Regions from separate parts of the Homo sapiens genome. Here region 2 is linked to region 1. Evidence: fine-mapped expression QTL. Tissue or cell type: esophagus muscle. Region 1 holds a variant in brackets; the other region holds the start of a gene. All regions are shown on one strand. Distances are between the middles of the regions.

Evidence for each region. PIP is the estimated chance that this variant, and not a neighbour inherited with it, causes the effect. A credible set is the group of variants that fine-mapping cannot tell apart.
Region 2: it holds the start of KCNT2, and the variant in region 1 is the best candidate, but not a certain one, in a credible set for the expression of KCNT2 in esophagus muscle (GTEx, PIP 0.68).

The regions. Positions count from the first base shown.
Region 1 is chr1:196,418,331-196,421,251 of GRCh38, forward strand. All of the region lies in intron 12 of KCNT2 (potassium sodium-activated channel subfamily T member 2), which reads right to left. Among named protein-coding and RNA genes, the nearest start is that of MIR4735, 160 kb to the right of the region's middle. The variant T/C (reference allele first, on the strand shown) is at 1,507.
Region 2 is chr1:196,606,777-196,609,697 of GRCh38, forward strand. It overlaps KCNT2 (potassium sodium-activated channel subfamily T member 2), which reads right to left and starts at 1,664. Exons shown (of 28, transcript NM_198503.5): 1 at 1,439-1,664. The coding sequence starts at 1,533. RefSeq lists an enhancer at 1,999-2,515.

The DNA.
Region 1 (2,921 bases):
AAATAAATAGACAACAAACAAATAAATAAACAAATAAATAATTAGCCAGGCATGGTACCCAGAAGGCGGAGGTTGCAGTGAGCTGAGATTGTGTCATTCAACTCCAGCCGGGGCAAGAAAAGCAAAACTCAAGTCTCAAGAACAACAACAACAACAACAAAAACAACTCAGGTTTGATGACTTAAACAGAAGACATTTATTTTCTCACAGTTCTGGCAACTGGAATTTCTAGGACAAGGTCCCAGCAGAGTTGGTTTCCTCTGAGGCCTGTGACATTGGCCTCTTTACCTGGTTACTTTATATGCACACCCACCCCTGGTATCTCTGTATATCCTATCATCTTATTCTCCTCTTACAAGGACATCAGCCATATTAGATTAGAGCCCACCCTAATGGCTTCATTTTAACTTAATTACCTATTTAAAAGCCCTATATCCAAATACAGTAAAATTGTGAAGAACTAGGAGTTAGGGCTCCAACAAGTGAAAATAAAAGGGGAGACAAAATGCAATCCAAAACCCCTGCCCAGAAGTGGAAAGCTCTTCTCAATACACTCAACCACATCAGGTAACGCCAGCTTGGTCTCCTCCCCAGAGGTGGCCTTCCTGAAGTTCTCCACTCCTCACAATGGTCTGACTGCTGGCACTGAGAGCCTGCTGTTTAGGGTCCATTCCATTCTCTCCTCTGTGCTGGATCCCCTGAGGCTACTTCTCCTTCACTCACTCCTTGTTTTTGGTAAACACATCTTCCAGCAGCTTCCAGAGAGTTGTGCATTCTTTAAAATCTTTAGTTTATATAAATAACTTCTTTCTACTTTCTTTTTTTTAATTTTTAATTTTTTTTATTTATTTTATTATTATTATACTTTAAGTTTTAGGGTACATGTGCACAATGTGCAGGTTAGTTACATATGTATACATGTGCCATGCTGGTGTGCTGCACCCATTAACTCATCATTTAGCATTAGGTATATCTCCTAATGCTATCCCTCCCCCCTCCCCCCTCCCCCCACCCCACAACAGTCCCCAGAATGTGATGTTCCCCTTCCTGTGTCCATGTGTTCTCATTGCTCAATTCTCACCTATGAGTAAGAACATGCGGTGTTTGGTTTTTTGTCCTTGCGATAGTTTGCTGAGAATGATGGTTTCCAGCTGCATCCATGTCCCTACAAAGGACATGAACTCATCATTCTTTATGGTTGCATAGTATTCCATGGTGTATATGTGCCACATTTTCTTAATCCAGTCTATCATTGTTGGACATTTGGGTTGGTTCCAAGGACATTTGGGTTGGTTCTACTTTCTTACTAGACCAAACTTTTGCCAGGATACAAAATTCTAAGTGAAAAAATATTTCCCTTCAGAATTTTGAAAGCATTGTCCCACTGTCTTCTGCCATTACTGATGAGACATCTGAAGACATTCCAATTTTCCACCCTTAGTTTTGAATATTTTCTTCTTTTTCTCCTATTGTTCCTCTTCCTCATATGCCTTTTCCTTTTTCCTT[T/C]GGCTTCTTCTTTTGTTTCCTTCTCCCTGACCAGCACAGATCTTTTCTAGTCCTTATTGTATAATGAGTGGGCCCTCTCAATTTGACAATTTTTGTGTGGAAAATTTGGGCGTATTATGTCTTTCATAATATTCTACCCTAGTGTTTTATAAAATCCCTTTCTTAAATTCCTACTATATTGATATTGCTTCTCTCTAACTACCATAATTTTCTCAACTTTTTAATTCTTCTTTTACACTATTTGGTTTTATTGTTCATTTTATTATTCTTCATTCTTCAATGTTCTTAGGTTTACCTTCTAGGCTTTTTATTAAATTATTCATTTGTTATGCTAGATTTAATTTCCAGGAGCTCTTTCAGGTTCACTGAGTGTCTTGTTTTGTTTTGTGATCTAGTCTACTATTCTTATTTTATGTATGTACCATATTCTCATGTTACTAGGAATATTTATTAAATATATACTTTAAGATTGATTTCTATTTCCAGAACTATATGGTATTGTTTGATTCCTCTGAGTTTCTCTTTTTGTGTATGGTTTTTGTTTGTTTGTTTGCTTATTCCTTCTTGTTCTTGTTAGAAATGTCCTCAAATCCCTATGTCTGCTGTCTGGTGTCTGAATACAAGCAGGAGTTAAGCACTCAAAAGAGGTTAGGAGTTGAGTGGAGGCAGAGAGCTTTTCTCACATAGATTTCATTTTAGAGTGATCAATGTTTAATATTGCACTGGGGAACACCAGGTTTCATATCTCTGCACACACAGACACACAGACACACACAGGCACACACACTTTTGATTGAATGATATAATGCATTTTATCTTGTGTTGAACCATTTCCCATGAGGAAACTCCTCCAATCTTGTGTCAATGTCAATAGAGATATGGACCAGGCTGTAATGCTTCTCAGAGTCATTTGGGAAAATCATATCACGTTCAGTGATATGATTACTCTTAATTCCCTTAATTTTAGCATGGTGCCTAGACTCTTAACTGTAGCTGGTGTTTCTGAGTAGAGTATCCCTGGATCAAATTCTCCAAATAGCAAACTCTTTTACCAGGATTAGGAAAGTAACCAGCAATGGATATGTACAGGGGTTCAAAGAACCTACTTTTCTTATAGACTTCTAACCAGTATTCATGTATTTAGTCATACATATAACCCTACATTCAGAGACATCTGGTACCTCTATTTTCTGAGACTGTTGAGGTTCGGTTGCAAAACGCAGCTTGCTTCTAATTTGTTTCCTGTCTCAACTTAAATTTTAACTTCCTTCACTGTTGACACTCATCTATCTGCTTTGTAGCTTGCAAAATTATTATTAATATAAAATTAGTATTGTCTCATCTACCAAATCTGTTGTCCCTATAGGTATAAATCTTCTTACTCATTTCTTCCAATTTAGTAGTGTCAGGAAAAA
Region 2 (2,921 bases), 190 kb after region 1:
AACTAAATATACATTCAGTCACTAGGAACACCATGCTACACTTACTAAGCCATTTAACCAGGCTAATGCAGTTTATCTAAATGTCAATTTGTATTACAAATTCACTTAAAAATTATTTTCTTTATCTTCAGTTTACCCAAACACTTTACAAGAATACTGAGAAATTGGTATTACTTCTTTAAATTTTTAGCCAATATGTGTGGTTTTGCCTAAAAAAGAGATTGAACCAAAATATCCTCTACAAAACATCCATCTCCTTTCAAATTACTAATATGAGACCAAACAAGATGCCCATAATTGATGCTCAAGATAAAATCCTCAGTGTGTAGAGACAGGAGTTGGTATTGGGAGCTGAAAAGGTGAAGAAAAGAAATAGAGTGTATTGGTCAGTGGTGAATGAGGAGGGGATTTTGGATTGGACCAATAATGGATCTTTTATATAACTAAAATAGCACATCAATACTAAACTAAACTTCAATGAAACATTTCAATTGAGTTGAGAACCTAGTTAGTATACATGTATTATTTTAAAACAAAGAAATGTGGCATGTGATATATGGGATGACTATTCCAGAAAATACTAAATTCGCTGAAATACAAAATGTGCTTGAGACAGAAATAGACAGAGGAATTTCAGAAGTTTGTGCAAAGCAGTAATGCTATAAATAAAACACATGAACAATATTTTGCTAACAATAAATATTCTAGTTTTGAAACTTAATTTTAATTTTGAGACATATATTCTGTTTCAGTTAAAAAAATATACTAGTTATGAAAAGGTTGTATCATGTTATACAAACATCATTATTCATAATGGTCAGAGTCACCTGTTCAAAGTGAGTATATTGTATTAAAAAGGTTGTCATTTTCACTAACTACCTGTTACATATTTAAACCAATTGTCTACTTAAAACTCCAAAATGTTTAAACAGCATAAAATTTCCAGTGCCAAGTAGATACCTACTCAAGACAACACAGACAAGGAGGAGGTAAATAGACTCAGGAGATTTTAAGTTTCTAATGTGCTTTTTCAAACAACTTGCATGCAATTTTGAGTTTGATTAACCACACCTAAGGAAAAAATGCAAATTTTCTGGAAATGATATTGCATACCATTTGGGTGTATTGTACCTCTGATACCAGCCTTATACACATCCTAGAAAAGCACAGATAGACAAAAGAATAAGCACCAAATGAATGCAATAAATACCTTGCAAGAATAAGAAAAGTGTAAAGAAAAAGAGTTCCTTATCTATAGCAACAGTTATATAGAGTCAAAATGGAGAGACAAATCAGAGTCTCTTTTACTCCCTCCCCCAGCCTAGTCTCCCTCTCTGGCTCCGTTTTCCTTTTCTCCCTCCTTTCCCCACTTCGGCCCTCCCATTTCCGTCTCTTTTTCAGCAATATTTACAGAACAATCCTCCACCACACCACTCACCTGTCGTCGTTTTGCCATCCTTGGTCCCCTAGCAGCAAATCTCGAAACCTGTACCTGGGAGGCAGAGGGGGCACTTCGCTCTCCAAATCAACCATCCTTCCTCAAAGAGTGGGAAACATCAAACAACAAATGGAGGAGAGGAGGGAGAAAGAAAGAAAATATTGCGGAGTACAGGGAGAGGACTAACAAGACGCTGTGGCCGAGAGAGGGATGGGAGAAGGGGAAGGGGACAGGGAGGGGGAGGGGGTCCGCTTGGAGCCGGAAGCTAAGGCTTGAAAGGGGGCTGGCTCCTCTTTCCCGAGGGTGTAATGGGGATGATGCAAACCCAACCCAGGAGCAAAAGTCTGGCTCTGACAAGAATCAACGCTGCCAAGGAACCGCCCCCAGGCTCGGCACCGCCTCTGGTCCCCAGGACTAGGGGGAGGCGGGTATAAAAAGTTACTTCGCCGAAAAAGACGCGCGGTGCCTAGAAAGAGGGGAGAGGGGTGGGAGTGAGCGCCGCTTGATGGTGAAGCACTTTCCTTAAAGGCAGTTGCCAGATCCTCCCAGAGGGCAGCCTCCCGGCTACTGTTCCCTCGGGCGGGCTTGCATCCGGCACAGCCCTGAGCTGGCGGGAATCGGGGGCGGTGGGTTTCGGCCCCAGACGCGGCCAACCCGGCTCTCCCCGCAATCTCCCTGTGGAGATGGAGCTGGAGGCCCAGCCAATGAGACTCCCCCTCATTAGCATAGCACAGTGACGGCACGGGGGTGCCTTGGGGACAACCAATGGGGGCGAGCTAATTAGCGGATTGCGGGGCTCCAGACCCTTCTCTGGGAGGAGGGGGGCCAGGGTGCTTGGAGTGTTCCACTATGCCACGAGCTCCCTCGCTTTGATTGCCTTCAGTCCAGGTGGGCGGGATGAAAAAATTGCACGTTTCTGGAAAGGGAATCCCCACTCTCAGCCCCAGGAAAATCCCATTTTTTTCTCACATTCTGAAAGAAGGGAGGTGTTTCCCTGAACTCGGGGAAAAAGAAGGGCCACCTTAGGCCGCTGAAGAGAAGCATTTAGATGACAGGGAAAGCACATGGAAACGCACTGAGGATTTTACAGTGGTGAGTTGCTGTTACTGCTGTCGCTGCTACTAGCAGCGTTGTGGGCTTCCAGGTGGCCTGGCCTCAGCCTTCGGTCCCCTCCTATTAGTGGTTCACACGGAGGAAGAAGTGAGCCCGAGAGAACAGGGTCTGTTTTTCAGTAAGAACCACTGCTTACATGAACCCTGCTACACAAGCTATGGTTCTATTTGCGCTTACCGTTCTTTCCTTCAAAAACTGATTGCATCAGAGTATATACAGACCGAATACCAACCACCTGACAGCCTGGGCCGGAGGATAACCATATGGCTTCTCCTGCCCTTACTTAAGAACCGCTCTGTGTGGAGGAACAAGCTTGTTCCTTGATAAATGGATACGATGTGAGAGACAATAATCAAAGAACATACAGAGG